3 separate regions of the Homo sapiens genome follow, and regions 2 and 3 are each linked to region 1. The links come from fine-mapping of genetic effects on gene expression. A gene starts in region 1. Each other region holds a variant in brackets. All regions are shown on one strand. Distances are between the middles of the regions. Region 1 holds the start of TPCN2 (two pore segment channel 2). Region 2 holds the start of MIR3164 (microRNA 3164). Region 3 has its middle 14 kb from the start of MRGPRF.

Region 1 (8,179 bases):
GGCAGCTGGGCCCTGGACGGATTAGAGGTGTGAGGGGCCCCAGACAGAGGCAGGAGACCGGACCCCACCCTCACTCTGCCCGGCCCTGCTGCACTGCCGGGAGCAAGAGCCTTCCCTCCCTGTGGCTTTGGTGCCCACATGCACAGCCACGAGACCCACCCTGAGGACACCCGAATGTCTCCCCAGGGAAGCTCTGAAAGTGGCTACTGTTTATGTCCCCTGAGCACATCCTGGGATCGCTATGAACAGAAGCCACACTGTTTTGTTCCCTGCTGTATCTGCAGAGCCCAGAAGTCAAGCACACAGGACTCAAAGCTGATATATCCCATGAATAAATGAACAGCCCTGAGGGGAGCCTGGGGGGCCGGTGATCTGAGAGGCCCCACCTTACCAGATTCCCTGGGAGAAGACAAAATCTCTACCAGGAGAGATCTAGTGATACAAGCTTCTTAGACAAGAGACAAGCGGCCGAGTTCCGGGCCTCACTCCAGCCCCAGGACCACGGAAAGTACTCACATCCACCCAGGCCAGCCATCCCAGGCCAACAGTGGTGGGCACCCCTGGAACCATCCAGCACTCGTGGTTCCCTTTCGCCTGGCTTTTTGGTTGCTGGTTTGTAAAATTCTGGGTCTGGCCATCCTCCGTTTCACCCTGCAACAGCCCAAGGATCTCGTTCCAAACACTCAGAAGCACATCGCAGCTTCCCCTGGGCCCCCACTATTCCAGGCCCACACTCCACCCTGGTCTGGCACTGCAGGTTCCCACATTTGCCGGCCCGCCTCTCTCCTGCCTTTCAACCCTCAGTGCCACTCATTCCGAACTGGGCTCTGCCAAGGCCATGCTCTCCAAAGCCTCCAACCCTTTACTCAGGCTGCTGCTTCTGCCAGGAGCACCATCCCCCAATTTGTGAGTCCAGGGACTCCCTTGGGACAGCTCGCCCCGCCCTGAGCTCATCACCCTGGGGGACAATCACCTTTCCACACACCATCACCCACTGGGGCTGAAGGGTTCTGCAAGGCACAGAGGACAGCAGGGGCTGAGATGCTGCATCCGGCACACCAGGCCTCGACACGGCTTCCTAATCCAAGCCTCTGCCCCGCAACATCCAGGTCTGAGCTCCCGCTCCCCTGTTGCTCCAGGCTCCAGGCTGCACAACCTGTGTAGGGTCCTGACCATCATCCTCTGTGACCCTGGGCAAGTCCCTTAACCTCTAGGTGCTCCAGGTCCTCATGGACCCCCACCCAATAGGAGCTAAGTACAGACTGAATGACTTACTATAGCCAGAGTACTTTGCTAAGTGAGCCCTTCATAAGCATTCAGTTACTCTGAAAGCCTCTACAGCATCGCAATCCCTTGTCCTCTGACTTGTTTGATAACCAGTAAAAGTGTGATTTTTCTGACCCAGCAACAAGAGAAAACAACTGTTCTCAACCTTTGACCCCGGCCCCATCAGGTGGGGCCAAGTCAAAACGACCCAACAGCAGGGTCCACTGGGGTCCTTGGGGCACCCACAGCAGCAGCCCTCACCACAACCCGTTGGCAAGAGACCAACCACAGGACTTGCAAACCAGAGCACAGGGCCTTCATTTCAAAGCCTGGCACAGGCCTCAGCACAGAGACTGAATGAGCCTTTCGGAGTCTCCATGGCTCCATAGTCTGCCAGTCCTTGCTGGGGACCCTGGCCAAGGGGATTCAGAACACAGAGCGTCCTGTCCACGTTCTCAGAAGCCCTGGCTGAGGCCACAGCATAGGGACAAAGAGCGCTCCCCGAGAGCCTCCTCTTGTCAGCCACACTGCCCAGCAGAGCGGGTCTCACCTGCCAGGGAGGACCTGCAATGATCACAGAGCTTACCCAGGACGGCCACTGGCCCCCACACCAGCCCGCCGGGCCCTGTGCTGAGGACAAACTCTGGATTCTCTCTGAATCCTCACAATGCCCGCCAGGCAGTCCTTAGTATTATCTCCCTTTTACTGAGATTCGGAAAGGTGAAGCATGGCCAGGCACAGTGGCTCACGCCTGTAATCCCACCACTTTGGGAGGCCGAGGCAGGCAGATCACCCGAGGTCAGGAGTTTGAGACCACCCTGGCCAACACAGTGAAACCCCATCTCTACTAAAAATACAAAAATTAGCCAAGTGTGGTGGCGGGCGCCTGCAGTCCCAGCTACTTGGGAGGCTGAGGCGGGAGAATCGCTTCAACCCAGCAGAGGTAGAGGCTGCAGTGAGCCGAGATCACGCCACTGCACTCCAGCCTGGGTGACAGAGTGATACTCCATCTCAAAAAAGAAACAGAAAGGTTAAGCAACCTGCCAAGGTCACACAGCCAGTGCAGCCCCAGAAAGGCGCCCAGACCCCTAGACACAAAGTCTGTGTTCCCTGAACGGTGCCATATGCTGGGCGTCTCATCAAGGGGCCTGCCAGAGCTGCTCCCTGCAGATCTCCTTCCTGACTGGTCCCAGGAAGCACCTGAAGAACTTCCTGGAGGCAGCTTCTGAGGTGAGCAGACAGGGTGGCCACCTTGGCCTCTGGTTTTTCATCTCTCGTCAGGGTCCCCTCCTTGGCCCCTCATTACTCCATGGATGGGCACATGCCACAGACCAGTGGGTGGGCACCAGGATTCCAACCCAGTTCCTTCCAGACAGAGGAGGAAAGAAGGAAAGAGAGGCCAGAGAGGGAAGGAGCCAGGTGTGAATTCTCAGAGTGGTTCGAGCAGCAGCCGCACCAGAACAGAGGGCTGTGACCTTGGGCAGGTCTCAGGGCCTCTCTGGGCCTCAGTTTCCTCATCTGTGAAGTGAAGCTAAGGTCCTTCCACCTCTTAATCCAGAATCTCATTCCCCTGGTGTCAGCGAGGGGCGGACGCACCCCACCCTCGGGGGGCGGATTCAGCAATCTTCAGACCAGGACAAAAAACGGGAAGGGCAGGAGGGAGTGCAGAGGGGACTCTGGGGTGGCAGAGGGCAAGGAGAGGAAGCCGCCCCCGTCTAGGGGGCCCGCCCCAGCCCCACGGGAAGTGGGACGGGGAAAGGCACCCTACAAAGAAAGGACTCCTAGCTCCCAACTGGTTCGAATCCCACCTCGGCCACTTACTGGGTGTGTGACCTTGGGTAGGGTAACGCCTCTCTGTGAGCCTCTGCTTTTTCCAGAAGAAACGGGAAAAATCAAAGTGCTGCCTTCTCTGAGTCAATTAGGCGACCCTCATTACGGCGACAGTCGGGAAGTATGGGGTCTGGGCCCGCCCGGGCACACGGAGGGTGCCTGCCGCAGGTGGCCGGTTCCCTCGGGGCTGCCCAAGGCTGGGCGAGGGCCTCTTCGCCCAGCTGGTCGGGATCAGGACGCGACACGGAAGAGACCCCAGCTCTGCCCTGACCCCGGTCCGGGTCCGCAGGACGCAGCCCACTCGCCCTCAGAACACCGGCTCGCCTGGCACCCGGCGCGGCCCGGGCCCCGCTCGGACTCGAACCTGGTGGGGGCGCGCCCGGCAGAAAGCGGGGTGCTGGGACAGCGGGACCCCCACGCGCGACCCTGGTCTCCCGGGCCAGTCCCCTCCCCAGGTCCGGGCGGCTCACCAGGGCCGACTTGGATGCTGCGGTAAGTGGTCAGCCCCGCCGGCCAGTCGCCGCCACCGCCGCGGGCCCCGCCCAGCAGGGGCTCCGACTCCGCCTGGGGTTCCGCCATCCAGCAGCCCACGCGCTGGACCCGACCCTCAGAAGCTCAAGCCCCGAAGGCGCCCAGCTTCACTGCGCAGGCGCGGAGACCCCGTCCCTGGCGTTTTTGCTGACGCGCGCACGGCACTGTGGCGCAGGGGATCCCTGCAGTCCCAGCCAATGAGAACGGGGAGGGAGGGGTGGGGTTCTCCTGAGTGGGGCGGAGCTAAAGGGCCCCGCCCCTCTAGGGTGGAGCTCAGCTTCGTTCCACCCAGGGCGGGGCAGCGTTCTGGGGCTTAAGGGCCGAGGGCTGGGGAGGAAATATGTTCTCAAAGGATGTCTTTCCGGCCAGAAGCTTCAGCATCACCTGGAAACATTTTAGAAATGCAAATTCTTGGGCCCTTAAACCTACTAAATCAGCAACTCTGCGGGGAGGACCCAGGAATCTGTGTTTTAACAAGCATTCGGGGTGATTCTGATGCATGTGAGTATTGAGTACACGGGGTGACTGCAAAGGACTCCCCCCAGAATGGAACTGGAGTTTACCCTCTGATGGTGAAATTAGGAGGATTCAATATCATTAAGGGAAAAGTTTAAAAACATATGACACACTTAAAAAATATTTACAACGTATATAAAAAGTGTTTTCAACATTAATGCATAAAGACCTTGTATTCGTTTTCTATTGCTACAGTGACTAATTACCACAATCTGAAAATATAAAATAACTCCCATTCATCATCTTTCAGTCCTGCGGGGCAGGAAACCTCCTGTCTCAGGGCCTCACGAGGCTAGAGTCAAAATGTCAGCTGCCGTGGGCTCTTATCTGCAGACTCTGGGGAAAGCCCACTTCCAGGCTCATCCAGGATGTTAACAGAATTGTCTCCATGGGCCTAGGACTGAAGTCCACGTCTTCTTGCTGGATGTTGGCTGGTGTCATTCTCACTCCTAGAGGCCACTGCATTCCTTCCACGATGGCTTGAACACCTCCATCATCAGAGCCAGCAAGCAAGAGCACGCTGAAGACGCTTCGAGATGCAGCAAGACGCCTGTAATCCCAGCCCTTTGGGAGACCGAGGCAGGTGGATCACGAGGTCAGGAGATCGAGACCATCCTGGCCAACATGGTGAAGCCCCGTCTCTACTGAAATACAAAAAGTTAGCCAGACGTGGTGGCACGTGTCTATAGTCCCAGCTACTCGGAGGCTGAGGCAGGGGAATCGCTTGAACCCGGGAGGCGGAAATTGCAGTGAGCTGAGATTGCGCCACTGCACTCCAGCCTGGCAACAGAGCGAGACTCCATCTCAAAAAAAAAGGTGCTGCAAGACGCTTCCAATCTCTGTGACTTCCCCTTCTGCCATACCTCTTTACTTTTTCCCCCTCTTTTGGGGAGGGGGGAGGGTTTAAAATAAATATAAAATTTACCATCATAACTGTGAAAGGAAAATAAATCTCAGGACTCCAAAATCACTAAGCCAAAGGGAAAAGTCAAGCTGGGAACTGCGTTGGGCAAACTGCCTCGCCTTTTCTTCTTTAATAAAATAGCTACGAAGATTTAAAAAGCTACATACCTCCCTCACAATTTGCCCGCTAGGAAATTTTTCGTGGGCACCCAAGATCTTTACCCTAAAACAGTTTTGTTGAATTTTACCCTAACAATGTACATTGACAACTGATCTTCACAGGTTCCAAACAAAGGATGGAACTCTAAGTCATCCCTCTGCTCACCTGATTGCTTCCTCTGGTATAAAAGTGCAGATTCACCGAGCCAGACTAAGGCATAAGTGACTATTCCTCTACCCCCGCAACCTGTAAATTGTGTATTTCAGTGAAAGTCTGATCAAAGACTCACAAGAATGCAACCTTTGTCTCTTATCTCTCCACATATTTTTAAAATTTCTCCCTCTTTCCCAATATCCACCCTTTCCCTTTTTTTTTTTTTTTTTTTTTTTTGAGACAGAGTCTTGCTTCGTTGCCCAGGCTAGAGTGCAGTGGTGCGATCTCAGGTCACTCAGCAACCTCCGCCACAGCACCTGGCCAGTTTCCCCTTTAAATATTGAAGTCCTACAAATCATCCTTGAAGGAAGGCATAGACCTGCCTCCCAGGCACTCCTTAACCTTGGCAAAATAAACTTACTAAATAGATCGAGACCTGTCTCAGATATTTTTAGTTCACATAACTATATTGAAGTGTACAGCTCATTGATATTAAATATATTAATGATGCTATACAACTATCACCTCCAACTCCAGAACTCTTTTTATCTTGCAAAACTGAAATTCTGGACCCATTAAGCACTGACTCCTCATTCCCTCAGCCCCTGGAAACCACCATTCTCCTTTCTATCCCTAAGATTTTGGCGACTCTAGGTTCCTCATTTAAGTGGAATCCTGCAGTATTTGTTCTTTTGTGACTGGCTTATGTCATTTAGCCTAAAATCCTCAAGGTTCATCCATGTAGCATGTGTCCAAATTTCCTTCCTTTTTAAAGCTGAATAATACTCCACTGTATGTATCCATGACATTTTGCTTATCCAGTCATCCATGGATGGGCACTGGGTTGCTTCCACCTTTTGACTATTGTGAATAATGCTGCTGTGAACATGAGTGTACAAATAATTCGTCAAGACTCTGCTTTCAGGCCAGGTACAGTGGCTCATGCCTGTAATCCCAGCACTTTGGGAGACCAAGGCAGGCGGATCACCTGAGGTCAGGAGTTCGAGACCAGCTTGACCAACATGGTGAAACGCCGTCTCTACTAAAAATACAAAAATTAGCCAGGCATGGTGGCAGGCGCCTGTAATCCCAGCTACTCAGGAGGCTGAGACAGGAGAATCGCTTGAACCTGGGAGACAGAGGTTGCAGTGAGCCAAGGGCTCATATGATTATGTCTGAGGCATTCGAACCAGAGCGACTCCATCTTGAGTTAGGACTAGGAAAAATGAGGCTGGGACTTGCTGCGACTCCATCTTGAGTGAGGACTAGGAAAAATGAGGCTGGGACTTGCTGCGACTCCATCTTGAGTGAGGACTAGGGAAAATGAGGCTGGGACTTGCTGCGACTCCATCTTGAGTGAGGACTAGGAAAAATGAGGCTGGGGCTTTATCAGGCTGCATTCCCAGAAAGTGAGGCGTTCACAGTTAAGGGAACAGATTGATAATGTTTACTAAGCAGACCTAGACTTGGGAGTGTGCTGATATCCTGATATCTTCAGAACAGAAGCATCCCTAATTTTGCTTTAAAGGTAATAATATCAATTCTTGCAAAATACAGTAATTAGGAAAATTCTTTATCACAAACCCCAGTGGCAGAGCACGTGTCCTCATGATCTTTGATCTTTTTTCATCCTATATATAAACGAGTATTATACCTAGGGTGGACACGTTCCTCCTTACTTTCCGGAACGTCCTAACTCTGTCTATGGAGCAGCTGTTCTGTCACCACTTTACTTTCTTTTCTTTTTTTTTTCTTTTTTTTTTTTTTGAGACAGAGTCTCGCTCTGTCGCCAGGCTGGAGTGCAATGGCACGACCTCAGCTCACTGCAACCTCCGCCTCCCAGGTTCAAGGGATTCTCCTGCCTCAGCCTCCTGAGTAGCTGGAATTACATGCACACGCCACCACGCCCAGTTAATTTTTGTGTTTTTAGTAGAGACGGGGTTTGACCATGTTGGCCAGGCTGGTCTCGAACTCCTGACCTCAGGTGATCCACCCGCCTAGGCCTCCCAAAGTGCTGGGATTACAGGAACGAGCCACCGCACCCAGCCTACTTTACTTTCTTAATAAACTTGTTTTTGCATTGCACTGTGGACTTGCCCTGAGTTCTTTCTTGTGGGAGATCCAAGAACCCTCTCTTGGGATCTAGATCAGGACCTCTTTCTGGTAACAATTACACTGGGCTCATCAGATAATCTAGGATGATCTCCCTAATTTAAGATCAGCTCATTCGTGACTTCAATCGCATCTACAAAATCCTTTTTGCCATCTCATCTAGCACAACCACAGGCAGGACACCAGGAGTGAAGATCATGGGTGCCAAAATTCTGCTTCCTGCAGAGCCTTTAAAATCCCATACATTCAGCCTTAAATTCCACATATGGGAAAAGACTTGAACCAGAAGTTCCCAAGAAAGAGGAAATATCAGTGAGGAATGCCTAAAATAAAGCTCCACCTCATTAGGCTACAAAGGGATGCAAATTAAAGTAACAATGAAATCACTGAACTCCTAAGTCAGCAAATGTTTAAAAGATGACACAGCTCTGGGGAACAGAGTGGGGTCGAGAGAGATCTCAGGATGTGGCCACAGGTTTGAGTTTTGTTTTTGTTTTGTTTTTTGTTTTGTTTTGTTGTGACAAGGAGCATACATTTTAAAACATGAAAAAAAGTATAAGATATTTTTATTTCGAAGAAAGGAAATAATAGATGCACGCAGCTGTCTGCAAAAACGGCACATCCCAATAAATTGTCTTTATTGCCGCTAAAGAATTCCCTTGATGTTTGGGTACACAACCCCAGAGGCCCTAGTGGAATGTGGTTCCC
Region 2 (8,179 bases), 31 kb before region 1:
CTACCGACAGAGCAGTGAGCCGGCCCGGCACTGCCTTCCGCCAGCCTCCCAGCCTCCCACTCCAGTGCATAACCCGCCACCAGCAGCAGCCTGGGACTCACCACCAGGATCCCGCCAAACGCACGCATGTTCTGCACCAGGCCCAGGACGGTACTGGCCACCACGGCCATCAGCTGAGGACAGGAAGAGAGCACAGCCCTTACTCCTCCTGGCCCCACTGAGGGGACACCATCCCGGCCCACCACGCTGACCCTGACAGAAAGGCAAGATGGGGCAGGCCAATGACCACCAACCCACACACACACACCTGGACCCACAGCCACCCCCACACGCCTCTACACACCCACACAGCCTGTCAGGCCCCCACGTCCACCCATACACACCCTCGCACCCCAACACCTACATCTACCCACACGCATTCGCACACGCTTGCATCGCCACCCGCACGCACTCACTCACCCACTCCCGCATCCCAACACCTCCACCCCAGCCTCATTCAAGCACGGACTTCAAATTCCTGTGGGAGGCCCTTCTCTGCCTCCCAACCCACTGCAGGTGGGTCAGCTACTCTGTGGCCTGGAGACGCCAAAGAAATGCAGAGCTAGAGGTGGCAGGAGCACCTGCAGGAACTGAGTCTGAGAAGGGGCCTCTGAGAACCAGCAGGGAGGCCCCGGCTCCAAAGAGCCGCTCCTCCTCATCACAGCCTAGCCGGGAGAAAGGCCTTCACATCAGCCCCATCAACCCACCTGAGGAATCCAAACTAGACAACACAGCTGAACGCCACAGTGGAGACCAGTCAGCATGTACGTGTGCACACGTTGCGTGTCATCGTGAGCATGTATATACTCACGTGAGAGGTCCTGGGAAACTGCGACTTCAAGCAAAACGGCATGATTGCAGGGTCTGCTGTGCGCCATTTCCCTTAAAGTCACAGTTTCCAAGAACCTGTGGATAGCACTGAGGCCTTACTGTGGATGTGTGCACACACGATCATGCATCTTACACGGGCACAAGTTCACATGGATATCTGCATGCGATGTGTGCACACACGATCATGTGTCTTACACGGGCACGAGTTCACAAGGATATCTGCATGCGATGTGTGCACACACGATCATGCGTCTTACACGGGCACGAGTTCACAAGGATATCTGCATGCGATGTGTGCACACACGATCATGCATCTTACACGGGCACGAGTTCACGTGGATATCTGCACGCGATGTGTGCACACACGATCATGCGTCTTATCCGGGCACGAGTTCACATGGATATCTGCACGTGATGTGTGCACACACGATCATGCGTCTTACACGGGCACGAGTTCACATGGATATCTGCACGCGATGTGTGCACACACGATCATGCGTCTTACACGGGCACGAGTTCACATGGATATCTGCACGCGATGTGTGCACACACGATCATGCGTCTTACACGGGCACGAGTTCACATGGATATCTGCACGCGATGTGTGCACACACGATCATGCGTCTTACCCGGGCACGAGTTCACATGGATATCTGCATGCGATGTGTGCACACACGATCATGCGTCTTACCCGGGCACGAGTTCACATGGATATCTGCATGCGATGTGTGCACACACGATCATGCGTCTTACACGGACATGAGTTCACATGGATATTTGCATGTGATTATCTGTGCATACGGTGATGCGGGCGTGCGTATTAATGTACGTGTGTATGTGCATGATGATGTGTATTGTATCCAAACATGATTGTATATGTGTGACTGTGTATGATCATGTGTGCCTGTGATTGTGTGTGTATATGCATGTGCATGGTCACATGTGTGGTTGTGTGTGAGATCACGTGTGCTTGGCTGTATTGTATATATGTATGATTGTGCTTGTATGGCTGTAATTATGTGTGAACACGTGTGCGCGTGTGTGTGCGTATGAAGGTCCCAGCACAGCAGCCCCGTAGGAAGGCTCAGGACCCCTGAGCTGCCTTCAAGTGGGACATACTGTCAGGTGGGACAGGTGCACAGCTCAGAGGAAGGATGAACGGGGACAGAGGAGGGACCTGGACACTCAGAACATGGGTCTTAGGACATGATGCCAGGAGCAGCAAGGCCCAGACCCCCGACCTCTGCCTGCCTGCCCCTTTAAGGTGCCCATTGCTCCTAACCGGTGCATTAAGAGAAACCAGCCCTCAGAGATGGTCATGAGCCACCTGCGCCCGCATTAGAGGATCCTGGAAACAAGCTCCCTGGCCAGGGATACCACTGCCCCTCATTAATAGCACCCTGGGAGCCATGGCAAAGGCCTTTCTGGGAACCTCAGAGACCTGGGGGAGCACTGGTGTCCAGGGCTCCAGCCCCAAGGAGCTCCTGCCACTGGCCAAAGCATTGCACCCGCCACACCCTTGCCCGCCTTCCTCTCCCAACCCAGAAATGCAGGGCTGGGCTCTCCTGCTTCTAATGACCCTTCCCCAGCATCACAAGAGCACGGCAGAGAGCTGAGGGTGCAGCCAGGGAGCCCAGGGTGACGGGCACAGTCCTCGGGCCCTTCCTGCCCCAGGCTCACCCACCCTGGAGCAACGCAGCAGCATGACCCAGGAGGGTGGGGCGAGTGGGGGTGGGGCCGGCACACACCTTCATGCTGGGGATGATACGCAGGAAGCGGAACACGATGAGCATGTTCAGCATGCGGGTCATGTCCCACAGCGACAGCAGGCCCACCATCTCCGGCCTCCTGGGGAGAGACACGGGAGGCGGGTTGGGAGGAGCCCAGGAGCCCCACAGGGAGGAGACAAGGAAACGCGCGGGTTCCTGGACGGAGGCGCAGGGAGGGCAACAGGGCATGACGGGAGTGCACCCCACAGCCAACACCGAGCAGAAAAGCCTCTGCAGGGTGGCGAGAGGGCGGGGCCTGGGCTACTCACTGCTCCGCTTCCACCTGCAGCCCCGGAGCGACCCCCATCCCCCCAACACCTTCCCAGCCAGCCCTTGCGGGAAGGCTGCAGCCCTCCTTCTACACAGACCCTCTGTCCACACGGGAGGGCATGGAGGTTCCAGACACTGAGACTTGCTCCAGCTCAGGCCCCAGCAGAACTGCGTGAGCCCATGTCTCCTGCCCCGGTCTCCTGCGCCAGCCCCATCCCCTGGTTCCTGCCCCCATCGCCCACCTCCTGTCCCATGACCCTGACCCTGACCCCATCCCTGACCCAAGCCCCGCTTGGCATCCCTCATGGTCTTTCCATGCTTTCATTTCTGTTGAAACTCAAACCCATTCTCACCCACAGTGTCAGCCCCCCAAGGTAATGACTCAGAACAAAGTGCAGCGGGCATGCTCAGTGCACATGAAAGACAAGGCAATGCCAGCCCCACGGCACAGCACAGTGGCACTGCCTGCCTTCCTGAGGTAAGTTCTGGGGGGCTTCCTAGGGAGCTGACGGAATAGCAAGGCTCTTGCTGTCCACCGTCCCCACCCCCACCAAGCGACTCCCAGCTGCTCCCTAGGCAGTGGGGTGGATGACACAGCACACAGAGACCCAAGGAGCCCGGCCTAA[C/A]CACAGGGCCGAGGCTGGCATGCTGGGCCCCGTGCCCCACCCTTCCTGTCTCATCACGGGCACACCAGAGCCACGCTCTCAGGGCAGAGCAGCCTGGCTGACAGCCCTGTGGTGCCACGAGGCTCCAGGGTCCCTGCCCAGGTTGTCTCTTCATGGCCAGAACCCCGGGCAGTGGTGAATCAGCACACAGCCTCAGAGTTCAGTGAGCCCCGGGCCCCTAGCTCCACTATTTTAAGGAGGCTAAAGTGATGTCCAGAGTGGGAGGCGATGACTCAAGGTCACACTGTGAGGCAGGGGCTCTCCCAAGGACCTTCCCGCCAGCAGAGGGGCCCAGCCGAATCCCAGTGGTCACAGGTCCCCTGAGACCTGAGCCAGGGGCATCTCTGCTGCCAGCCCCCAGCATGTGTGCTGGGAGGGGGAGCCCACTGCCGCCCGGGAGGGCATCTCCAAGGGGGAACAACGGCTTCCCTCCACAGCCTGCGGGGTGCCAGCTTCTGGAGAGAGGACCCCCAGAGCGACGGCAGGGCCCTGCCCCGACACAGCCTCTGCTGTGGGATCGGCCCACCCATTCCACCATCACGGGGTCTGCCCTAGAGTCAGAGCAGACCCAGCCCCCTGGACACCACTGAGACCCTCCCAGGGGCGCTGGGTGGTGGTGCTGTTTGCTGTAGCCGCCCTCGGTTCTGCCCAGTCACATACCAGCCTGGGTGTGGCAATCGGTACACAGCCAGAGTTGAGATCTCCAAAACCTTTAATTACAAAAGAAAAGAAGGCTTCGCTACAGCAACACTAATCTGGGCGGCCCTTAAAGGAATTATTATAAAGCTCATCTCTAACACATTCTCCCCAAAAGGGGCTTTTGGGGAGAAATCAGAGCTTGGTCCTGGACCCCACGGGTTGGTTCCAGATGTCAGGACTTCTTTCAGCTGGAAAGACACCCTGGCCTCAGGAATCGGGGGACTGCACAGATTGGGGTGGCAGAGGTGGCAGAGAAGATACTGAGTCAAGGACAGACTGCAGGGCCCTTTTCAAATTTCTCTTCACCTATGTGCCGAGGGGCCTGCTGGCTACAGCAAACGTCACTCTCATGTGGCTGCTTGTGACACACACACCAAGTGTGGCATGCCCTCACTCCCACTGGGTCTGGGGAAAGGAAGTGTAAGCATTTCCCAAGAACACCCTGGTGCCTGAGAGCCCCCTGGCCCCTCGCTCCACCCATGCTGAGGTCACACCGTCTATCAGTGACGTTTAAGAGGCTGTTCCCCGGGCTGGAGTCGCTGGCCAGGGCTACAAGTCCTTCAGGGCTTCCCCTGGGGGTCGGGAGGGGCAGCCTGCCCCCCATGACACTCGGATGCAGTAGAAACCCAGCCTCCTAAAGACCTCACCGGCTGCCCACTGAGCAACTCGGCCAGCAGGGAAGCCAGCCCTCACCACTGAGAGCAGAAGCCCACCTTCCTACAGCCTCTAGTCCTCAGGGGAGGCCTGAGATGGGCCAGCACAGAGCCCAGGTGGCGCTCACCCACCCGCCCAGTAGAGGCCGGCCTCGGATGCGCCTACTTTACCAGCAGGACAACGGTGAGGAGCCCGTCAAACACGTTGCTGGGGTAGGACAGGTACCCTCGCAGGCCCAGGGCAAAGACCTTGAGCAGCATCTCCAACAGGTAGTACACAATGAAGACGCAGTTGAGAATCTGAAAGGGGCAGAAGAGGCACCCAGCATTGGGCCCCAGGGCTGCCAGCACTGCCCAGCCTCACCCTGGCCCTGACAGGTGGACAGCTCAGAACTTACCCCCAGGATGAAGTCATCACGCTCAGCAGGCAGCACATCTGCATCCAGCACCAGGAACACCTGCAACGCCAGAACAGAGGGCTCGCCGGCTGGCCCAGCACAGCGCTGGGCGAGGCAGGAGGGGCAGGCTCCCCTGCAAGGTGGGCGGGAACCGGCACTTCCGTGCCAGCTCTGGGGCAAATCCACACTCACGCAAATGGACACCAGGTTTGCCAGGGCGATGAGGTTCCCCAGGTAGTCAAAGTAGTAGTGGCCGAAGAGGAACTGGGCGCTCTGCAGAAACGGAGACTGGTACTCGGGCCTCGGCGGGTGCTGGGCAAGGAACACACGTGCTCAGAAGCACAGGCCAGCAGCCGTGGCTGTTGCAGCCCAAAAATGCTCACACCCTCTTATTCTGGGATTTGATTTTTTCCTACCCCATCTCCCGTCCTATCTATCCAGCCACAGGAAATAATCCCAGACACAGAAATCGCTTTATACACAAAGGTGTTCATCTCAGTGGTCTTTGTAACACCCAAAGAGAAATAGAAGCAACTGAAACATCCACTGAGGCTGTAAGTAAACCATGTTGTGATATTAGAGTCACCTGAAACATACGCAAAGTGTCACCCTGATATATATAAAAAAAAAAAAAGCTGTGTGAAAAAACACAGGTAAGTGATATACTCATAGCTACAGAAACTCAGCACAGAACCAACTCCTGTACTGTGGCCAGCAGCAGCAGGAGGCAATGAGGGGCAGGCGGGCAGACGCTGCCACTGTCAGGACCCTTGTGAGACCCAGCACTTCCCACGCTCAGCAGCCTCCTTGAGACACGTCTGTGTGTGCAAGAGGTCAACAAGGGGAATGGCCTAAACATTTCTCAGCAAGGAGACCTGCACCCGCTGTCCCACACGGGAGCCACTGACCACCGGCGGCTATTTCATGAAAATTTCAATGCAACAAAATTCAACACTCAGTTCTTCGGTGGCAACAGCCACGTGTCAAGTACTCCACAGCCACATGTGACACGTGGCTACAGCTCATCCCCCCAGAAAGTCCATATGAAAATGGAGAGGGTAAGAAGACATGGCTGCGTGAACAGGCAGGCTGCAGAGTGAAAATCGCAATGCTTCATGTATACGTCAAAGAAGAACAAAGCAACTGTTTCCCCAGGTAACTACAAATGCCTGAAATTACACAGGGAAAAGTCTGGAAGGAAAACACCAAAATATCCAGTTGAATAGAGTGGCTATTCTCCAGTGAGACCCAAACTGGTGGTGCCAATGATCAGCGAACTTCCTCTCGGCTCCCGACATCCTCCTCGATACGCACTCTGCCACAACGGGCAGGGTCCCTTTCAGCGTCTCATCCACAGTGAACGGGAGTTGAGGCTTTCTTAGCGGAGGGGCTGGAGGGACACAGCAGGAGGGCAGGAGGGCAGGTGGAGGGACATGGCAGGAGGGCAGGTGAAGGGACACAGCAGGAGGGCAGGTGGAGGGACACGGCAGGAGGGCAAGTGGAGGGACATGGCAGGAGGGCAGGAGGGCAGGTGGAGGGACGTGGCAGGAGGGCAGGTGGAGGGACATGGCAGGAGGGCAGGTGGAGGGACATGGCAGGAGGGCAGGTGAAGGGACACGGCAGGAGGGCAGGTGGAGGGACACGGCAGGAGGGCAGGTGGAGGGACATGGCAGGAGGGCAGGAGGGCAAGTGGAGGGACATGGCAGGAGGGCAGGAGGGCAAGTGGAGGGACATGGCACGAGGGCAGGTGGAGGGACATGGCAGGAGGGCAGGAGGGCAGGTGGAGGGACGTGGCAGGAGGGCAGGTGGAGGGACATGGCAGGAGGGCAGGTGGAGGGACACAGCAGGAGGGCAGGTGGAGGGGCATGGCAGGAGGGCAAGTGGAGGGACATGGCAGGAGGGCAGGAGGGCAAGTGGAGGGACATGGCATGAGGGCAGGAGGGCAAGTGGAGGGACATGGCACGAGGGCAGGAGGGCAGGTGGAGGGACATGGCAGGAGGGCAGGTGGAGGGACACGGCAGGAGGGCAGGTGGAGGGACACAGCAGGAGGGCAGGTGGAGGGACACAGCAGGAGGGCAGGTGGAGGGACACGGCAGGAGGGCAGGTGGAGGGACACGGCAGGAGGGCAGGTGGAGGGACACGGCAGGAGGGCAGGTGGAGGGACACCGCAGGAGGGCAGGTGGAGGGACACGGCAGGAGGGCAGGTGGAGGGACAGAGCAGGAGGGCAGGTGGAGGGACAGAGCAGGAGGGCAGGCCTCCCCTGCGGTTTCCGGATGCTACGGGGTGGATCGGAGTGTGGTGTTAAGCACATCTGGACACGCTCTGTCCGAGACACATAGTCCCCAGGGGACCTACAGCCACAGCCTGACCTCCTGAAAATTTCCCAGCTTCCCACAGTCCTCAATGTGGAAACCAGTGCCCAAAGGCCACCTGCCCACACTGGCACCGAATTCCCTCGGCAGGACCACGCCACTGCCTGCTCACAGCCTGGGCCTGCTGCACCCAGGAGGGTCGCCTCCTGCTTACCCAGTGACCACAAACCAACCGCAGCCCGGGGAAGCCAGTGAACGTCTCTGCATTCCTGTGGGCAAAACCACACCTGCTCTCAAGAGGTCTGAACCCCAGCTTCGGAGGGTCCCCTTCCAGGTCCATCCTTCCTCATGCACTCCCCTCAGCCCAAGGACACCACATGGTTTCCTTACATCTTGCAGTTACTCTTTTATCGTAGTTGCCACTGCCGTACATGACACTTTCTGTTTAACCCAGACGGACACCTTGGCCAAGAGAGATTTCAGCATTATCTATTACGTCTAAATTGTTACAAGGAGAAGGTGTTCATATGTTAGCTGTGTAA
Region 3 (8,179 bases), 21 kb after region 1:
ACAGCAGGTACTCCCTGGAAAGCCCATAGTCCAGTCAGAGAACAAGAGTCAAAGCAGGGAGACTCACAGCCTTCCTTCCACTTGCAGGCGCCTGCAAGGAGAAAGCAGTAAGGCAGACGGTGCCGGAGCCATCTGGGCCATGGACTCTTGAAATTCACAAAATGCAACTCGCTTCCAAGACAAAGCCCTGCCCCGAGAAGAAATTGCTGGGGGTAGAATCCAAATTGACCAGGGCAGAAGCACAAAGGAAAACAGGTCCCAGTAAAAGGGAGAGAAGAGAACAGAGGCAGCAGGTTGCAGAAAGCAAGGGGCTGTGTTTACCATCTCTTCTCAGAACTATTAGGTTGGTGCAAAAGTAATTGCAGTTTTTTAGTTTTGCACCAACTTAATAAGAGCAGAGGGCGCTCTCAAGGGAGCTATCCTGGCCCACCTTTCCCCCAGAGATATTCAGAAAGATGCATCTCACTGTGGGGGGGAAATGATCAACAGGAAGGAAGTGTTGTCCAATCCCATACAGAGATGCTATACAAAAAGAGACAGGCCAGGCACGGTGGCTCATGCCTGTAATCCCAGCACTTTGGGAGGCTGAGGCAGGCAGATCACCTGAGGTCGGAAGCTTGAGACCAGCCTGACCAACATGGTGATACCCTGTCTTTACTAAAAATACAAAAATTAGCCAGGCGTGGTGGCACATGCCTGTAATCCCAGCTATTCAGGAGGCTGAGGCAGGAGAATTGCTTGAGCCCGGGAGGTGGAGGTTGCGGTGAGCCAAGATCTCGCCATTGCACTCCAGCTTGGGCAAAAAGAGCGAAACTCCATCTCAAAAATAAAAATAAAAAAGAGAGACAAAGGAGCAGAATGACAGCCCTACCCAGCCAACGATGGTGTGCCCAAAGGACATGTCCTCAAAACAGACAGAAGCAGTCACTTTAACATCGCACAACAAGCTGTGATTTTAGATATTAAGAAACTAATAGAAGTTATGGAAAATAGCATAAATCAAAACTAGAAAAACTCAGAAATGAAGCAATCGGTGAAAAGGAAAAGTTGTAAAGAGATGATGAAATCAGAAAGGAGTTTAAAAGAGAAAAGGAATTAAGAAATGAAGACTGAAACTAAAAGGAGTAGAAGGGCAAATGAGTACCACAAATAAAGCCTTAAGAGAAACAGACTAGGAAAAGCAGGCTGTTGAGGCTCATGTCTGCGGTCACAACTACTCGGGGACTGAGGAGGGAGGATCGCTTGAGCCCAGGAGTTCAAGTCCAACCTGCGCAAAACAAGACTCTTATCTAGAAAGAAGGGAAGGAAGGAAAGAAGGAAGGAAGGAAGGAAGGACGAGAGGGAGGGAGGGAGGGGAAGAAAGAGAGAGAGAAAAAAAGAAAGGAGGGAGGGAGGAAGAAAGGGAGGGAAGGGGGAAGAAAGAAGAAAGAAAGAAAGAAAGCAGAAAAAATTTTAAACCAAAAAGAAATGTTGAAGCCAAAAAAAAAAAAAGTCTAGAGAAAATTATAGCTATAGAAAATAGGCAAATAAGATTCAAGATACATACAATAGGAATCCCAGAAGAAAACCAAAGCAATGAAGCAGAACAAATAATAATTATAATTCAAGAAAATTTTTCTGAAATAATAAAATAAAATAAAAAATTTTTAAACTGAGTAAAGAACACCAATCAACAAAAGAAAACCAATCGACAATCCCCCCTGCCAAAAAAGAGGGGATTAAAGGTATCATATGAAGGTATTGGGGGAGGGTTGCCACAAGAATAAAAACACAAAGGTTCTCAACAACAAAATCTACACTAAACCAAGAAAGAGTAACGTGGCCCCGCCAGCACATCCCTCTAAGGCTGCAAGTCCTTGAATCCCCTTCTCTATAAGGTTCCTGGTAAGAGTTTAACAATGAGACGGGTTTTCTTTTTTTTTTTTCTTTGAGATGGAGTCTCGCTCTGTCTCCAGGCTGGAGTGCAATGGCGCGATCTCGGCACGATCTCTGCTCACTGCAATCTCTGCCTCCCAGGTTCAAGCAATTCTCCTGCCTCAGCCTCCTGAGTAGCTGGGATTACAGGCATGTGCCACCACGCCTGGCTAATTTTTGTATTTTTAGTAGAGGCTGGCTTTCACCATGTTGACCAGGATGGTCTCGATCTCTTGACCTTGTGATCTGCCCATCTCAGCCTCCCAAAGTGCTGGGATTACAGGCATGAGCCACCTCACCCAGCCTAGAGAGGTTTTCAAAAGACGTATAGTAGGCTGGGTGCAGTGGCTCACACCTGTAATCCCAGCACTTTAGGAAACAGAGGGAGGAGGGTTGCTTAAGGCCAGGAGCTCAAGACCAACCTGGGCAACATAGCGAGACCCTGTCTCTACCAGAAAAAAAAAAAAAAAAGAAATCATAAAAATAGCCAATTGTGGTAGCATAGGCCTGCCTGTAGTCCCAGCTACTCGGGAGGCTGAGGTGGGAGGATCATCTGAGCCCAGGAGTTGGAGGCTGCAATGAGCTACAATCACGCCACTCCAGTCAGCCTGGGCAACAGAGTGAGGCCCTATCTCTAAAAAAATATTTTTTTGGCCAGGCACAGTAGCTCATCCCTGTAATCCCAGCACTTTGAAAGGGTGAAGCAGGCAGATCACTTGAAACCAGGAGTTTGTGACCCAACCTGGCCAACACTGCAAAAACCTATCTCTACAAAAAACACAACAAATTAGCCGGGTGTTGTGCGTGCCTGTGGTCCCAGCTACTCGGGAGGCTGAGATGGGAGGATCGCTTGAGCCCAGAGGTTGAGGCTGCAGAGAGCCGTGATCATGCCACTGCACTGCACTCCAGCCTGGGTGACAGAGTGAGATCCTGTCTCAAAAAGAATTTTTTTTTTTTTTTTCTTGAGATGGAGTCTTGCTCTTTCACCCAGGCCGGACTGCAGTGGTGCTATCTGGGCTCGCTGCAATCTCCGCCTCCCAGGTTCACGCCATTCTCCTGCCTCAGCCTCCCGAGTAGCTGGGACTACAGGTGCCCGCCACTGCGCCCGGCTAATTTTTTGTATTTTTAGTAGAGATGGGGTTTCACTGTATTAGCCAGGATGGTCTCGATCTCCTGACCTTGTGATCTGCCCGCCTCGGCCTCCCAAAGTGCTGGGATTACAGGCGTGAGCCACCGTGCCTGGCCAAAAAGAAATTTTTTTAAACTAAAAAATTAAAAACCATATCCATCTGAGTTTGGAGAGGAAAGCAGGGCCACTCCATGCATTCCAGAGAAAAAGGGGCTTACTATAGAAATCAGTGCTTCCATAAATGCAGGAGGAGCTGGAGGGTGGGGCTGGGGAAGGTGTGGGAAGCTTGCTGCAGTCCTCATCAGCAATCACATGGGGTCAAGTGCCTGCAGAAGGCAAACAGGCAACGGTAGCTGTTGCAACAGAACGCGATGGTGAAATACAGAGTTTGCATCCTGTGAAGTTGGTGGCCTCCTCCTAT[T/C]GCACCGGAGAATTTGCTGGGGGAAAAAAATAGGAGCTCAGGGTTTTAAATATCCAGTTCAAGACCTAAAGTACCAGAAACCCTCCACTGGTGCTTGAAAAGAAGTCCATATCTCTTGTAGCCACAGAGTTGAGAGATCAAAAAAATAAACAAATCCAAACTCTGATCCCCTGGGTGGCAAAATAGAATCAAGTTCAACTACTACACTTGAACTCAGGGCCGCAAGTTTCTCTTCTGTGAAAGTCAGGGCACTGACGGGGAAAGAGTGGATCCCTGAATGGTGGAACGGATTCCATTTGGGAAGATTCTAATCCTAGGGTAGACTCTTCCTCAAGAGCCCCTACCACCTCCAGCTTCTAGATCGAAATCCCGGTGAGCTCCAGGAATGTGGCCACAAAATCTGACCCAGGAAGATGTACTATACACAACAAAAGAATTGCAAGCTATTTCCGGTTCATACTGGCAGAAACCTAGGAAATCTGTAGGGGAACAAACCCTAAGGGTGTCAGACCGGCGGGGTGGGGGAAGAAAGTAATGCCGGGTCAGGCTTAATTATTTTGATATGGTGCACTCACCAGAGATTCTGAGCTCCACGTGTCCACTCAGCACCTGGGAGTGGCTCTCAGAGTTGGCCCATTCCATCAACTGAAACCTGGAGCAGTGGTGACCCATGTTTTTATTTATTTATTTATTTGAGACAGAGTTTCACTCTTGTTGCCCAGGCTGGAGTGCAATGGCACGATCTCTGCTCACTGCAACCTCTTACTCCTGGGTTCAAGCGATTCTCCTGCCTCAGCCTCCTGAGTAGCTAGAATTACAGGCACCCGCCACCATGCCCAGCTAATTTTTGTATTTTCAGTAGAGGCAGGGCTTCACCCAGTTGGCCAGGCTGGTCTCGACCTCCTGACCTCAAGTGATCCACCTGCCTCGGCCTCCCAAGTGCTGGGATTACAGGCATGAGCCACCATGCCAGGCCTTGTTTTGTTTTTTGTTTTTTTTTTTGAGATGGAGTCTTGCTCTGTCACCCAGGTTGGAGTGCAGTGGCACAATCTCAGCTCACTGCAACCTCCATCTCCCGGGTTCCAGCAATTCTTCTGCCTCAGCCTCCCAAGTAGCTGGGACTACAGGTGCCTGCCACCACGCCTGGCTAATTTTTGTATTTTTAGTAGAGATGAGGTTTCACTATGTTGGCCAGGCTGTTCTCAAACTTCTGAGCTCAAGTGATCCACCCACCTCCATTCCCAAAGTGCTAGGATTACAGGCATGAGCCACTGCACCCAGCCCAGTGGTGACCCATTTTAAATGAAGATGGGATTCCAGGACTTCTTTGGAATTCCGTGGAGCAGAGTTTTTCTACTTCAGCACTATTGATATTTGAGGCCAGATGGCTCTTTGCTGTTGGGGGAGGTTGTGGGGACCTTAGCAGTATCCCTTGCCCACTCAATGCTAGAAACGTACCCCTCCCAGCCATAACAACCAAAGATGCCTCTGGACATTGCTAAGTGTCCCCATGGGGGGCAAAATCTCCCCTGATTGAGAGCCACTGCAGTAGAGAAAGGTGTCCAAAGAGTAGGGCCAAGCACAGTGGCTCACACCCAGAATCCCAGCACTTGGGAGGCCAAGACAGATGGATCACTTGAGCACAGGAGTTTGAGACCAGCCTGGGCAACAAGGTGAAGCCTCATCTCTACAAAAAAATGGAACAAATTAGCCAGGTGTGGTGGTGCGCACCTGTGGTCCCAGCTACTCAGGAGGCCTGAGCCCAGGAGGATGAGGCTGCAGTGAGCTGTGATCACACCACTGCACTCCAGCCTGGATGACAGAGAGAGACCCTGTCTCGAAAAACAAACAAACAAACAAAACCAAAACAGAAAAAAAAAAACCCAGAGTTAAGGAGAGGAATACTGGAGTGAATGTATCATGTACAGTCTACTCTGTTGTTTTTTTTTTTTTTTTTTTTTGAGATGGAGTCTAGCCCTGTCACCCAGGCTGGTGTGCAGTGGCGCAATCTCGACCCACTGCAACCTCCACCTCCTGGGTTCAAGCAATTCTCCTGTCTCAGCCTCCCAAGTAGCTGGGACTACAGGCTCCTGCCACCACGTCCGGCTAATTTTTTAAATTTTTAGTAGAGACAGGGTTTCACCATATTGGTCAGGCTGCTCTTGAACTCCTGACCTCAGGTGATCCACCTGCCTCGGCCTCCCAAAGTGCTGGGATTACAGGCGTGAGCCACTGCGCCCAGCCGCAATCTACTCTTTCATCCCCTAACTAGGCCCTCAGGAGGGCCCCTCACCCAAGCATTGAGAAAGACACTGGGTCAGGAACATCAGCATGTTTGAAGAGTTTGTAGTGGCTGCTCTCTGCAGGCTAGGAGTGACAGTGGGAGATGCTGCCATTGAAATGGGCTTCCTGAATTCAGTGAGGATGGTGGAATCCCAAAGTGGCGGGGCCAAGGGACAGTTCACCACGCAGACAGGGAGGGTGTCGTTACATCACAGAGAACTGGATTAATAATCAGAATGGCTTGACCCCCCACCCCCACCCCAGAGTTCCCTGGCAGTGGTTAACTCACCATGAAGAACCTAGGACTGAAACAGTTGGTTTTACCATGTAAAATTGCCAATGTTCAACCATTTTCTTTCTTTTCTTTTTTTTTTTGTTTTTTTGTTTTTTTGTTTTTTGTTGTTTTTTTTTTTTTGAGATGGAATCTTGCTCTATCACCCAGGCTGAAGTGCAGTGGCACGATCTCGGCTCATTGCTGCAACCTCTGCCTCCCGGGTTCAAGCGATTCTCCTGCCTCAGTCTCCCGAGTAGCTGGGATCACGTGTGTGCGCCACCACACCAAGCTAATTTTTGTATTTTTAGTAGAGATGGGGTTTCACCATATTGGCCAGGGTGGTCTCAAACTCCTGACCTAGTGATCCACCCGCCTTGGCCTCCCAAAGTGCTGGGATTACAGGTGTGAGCTACCGTGCCCGGCTGTTTAACCATTTTCAACAAGAAAAACTACAATTTAACATCATTCAGCCTAACATCTTGGCAACCTACTAAGATCTTACTTGACCTGATTAAGGAGCTCTGTGAACGGACAGCTGACTCGAGTCACTGTGGTGGAGGCTCGGCGCCCTGACCCAGTTCCCAGATTTTACCCAGAGCTCCTTGAATAAAGTGAGGCTGGGTCTCACTGAGGAAGGACGCTGCTCTGCCACCAAACATTTACAATGTACACACATTTTCCTTGCTGTCCCCAAAGGGACCTGTGCCATTTATCTGGGAAGAGTGAATATGGAAAGGCAAATACCCAGAGGGGAGGGCGGTCACAGGGAACTGAGTCTTAGCGGTACTCGTTGTGCCTGATGCACACAGCCACTGCGGTCCCACAGTCAAAGCAGGGGCTTTTGGAGGTCAAGCAATGAATGGGGTTTGTTCTGATCCGTCTCATGGGAGGCTCCGCAGGCCCTGAAACCCACCCTGTGGTTATTTTCTCATTCTGGAAAGTACAGTGGAAGAGGCACTCAGTGGTGTAGAAGCCATGGGGTGGCTCCTTGACTGGTAGAGTGAGGGCTACTATGGTAGAAAGGGCCACATGGATGCCACCAGCACTGCCTCTCTCTCCCAACATGGAAAACCAAAAGTCATATTGTGAACTTAGTCAAGCAGTAACTGCAACTTCATGTGCTTTTCTGGATGTAATGTTTTTATGGAGCAAATCAACACAGCTCCCAACACTCAATACCAATTATTTTTCTCTATACTCATTACTTAACAGAAACAGGCCAGGCGCGGTGGCTCATGCCTCTAATCCCAGCACTTTGGGAGGCCTAGGCGGAGGATCACTTGAGGTCAGGAGTTCAAGACCAGCCTGGCCAACATACCACAACCCCGTCTCCACTAAAAATACAAAAATTAGCCAGGCATGATGGTGCATGCCTGTAGTCCCAGCTACTCAGGAGGCTGAGGCACAAGAATTGCTTGAACCTGGGAGGCAGAGGTTGCAATGAGCCATCGTTGTACCACTGCACTCCAGCCTGGGCGATAGGGCAAGACTCTGTCTCAAAAAAAAAAAAAGAAAAAAATAGAAACAAATGAGAAGTGTGTTCCGTTGGGCAGTGACAGGAAAACACCTTTACCCCCTTACCTCAGGTCTACCAACTCTCCAGCCCTCTGTGACAGCTAGTTCTGGAGTACTTCCATTACCTCACCATTCCACAGGCTGACGAACCGACCCACTGTAGTGATAGCATGTGTGCGTTGGACCTGAGAAGAAACAGTAAATACCCGAGCCATCTTGGCAAGACACAGGCATGTCAGCCAGTGGGAAATGAACCCCACAAAACGCCTAACATCTCAGTGAAGTTTCTAGGGGTACAATGGTGGGGGGCGTGTTGAGATAGCCCCTTGAAGAGGAAGACCAGTTGCTGCACCAGGCACCCCCTCCTGTTAAGAAAGTGGCATGACCTTTGGTGGGGCTCTGGGTTTTGGTGCAGCTTACACCTCATTCAGGTGTGCTCTTCCGACCGACTCACTGGTAACCTGCAAGGCTGCTGCCAGTTTCAGGACCCAGAATGAGAGAAGCCTCTGCAATACATCCAGGCTGCTTTCAAGCTGTCATGCTATTGAGCCCAACAGACCCAACAGATCCAGTGGATCTTGAGGTGTCCGGGGCAAGTAGGGATTCTGTATGAGGCCTCTGGCAGGCTCCAACAGGTGTCACA

Evidence for each region. PIP is the estimated chance that this variant, and not a neighbour inherited with it, causes the effect.
Region 2: its variant is fine-mapped to the expression of TPCN2 in whole blood (INTERVAL, PIP 0.96).
Region 3: its variant is fine-mapped to the expression of TPCN2 in whole blood (TOPMed, PIP above 0.99).

What each region holds. Positions count from the first base shown.
Region 1 is chr11:69,044,494-69,052,672 of GRCh38, reverse strand. It overlaps TPCN2 (two pore segment channel 2), which reads right to left and starts at 3,741. Exons shown (of 25, transcript NM_139075.4): 1 at 3,567-3,741. The coding sequence starts at 3,675. RefSeq lists enhancers at 763-1,337, 7,661-8,179 and silencers at 3,314-3,413, 3,494-3,663, 3,784-4,003.
Region 2 is chr11:69,075,939-69,084,117 of GRCh38, reverse strand. TPCN2 (two pore segment channel 2) reads right to left here. Exons shown (of 25, transcript NM_139075.4): 14 at 5,517-5,636; 15 at 5,325-5,384; 16 at 5,098-5,226; 17 at 4,235-4,284; 18 at 2,619-2,718; 19 at 102-173. MIR3164 (microRNA 3164) reads right to left here and starts at 942; the gene lies at 860-942. RefSeq lists an enhancer at 3,154-4,353. The variant C/A (reference allele first, on the strand shown) is at 3,536.
Region 3 is chr11:69,023,392-69,031,570 of GRCh38, reverse strand. No RefSeq gene overlaps it. Among named protein-coding and RNA genes, the nearest start is that of MRGPRF, 14 kb to the right of the region's middle. The variant T/C (reference allele first, on the strand shown) is at 3,465.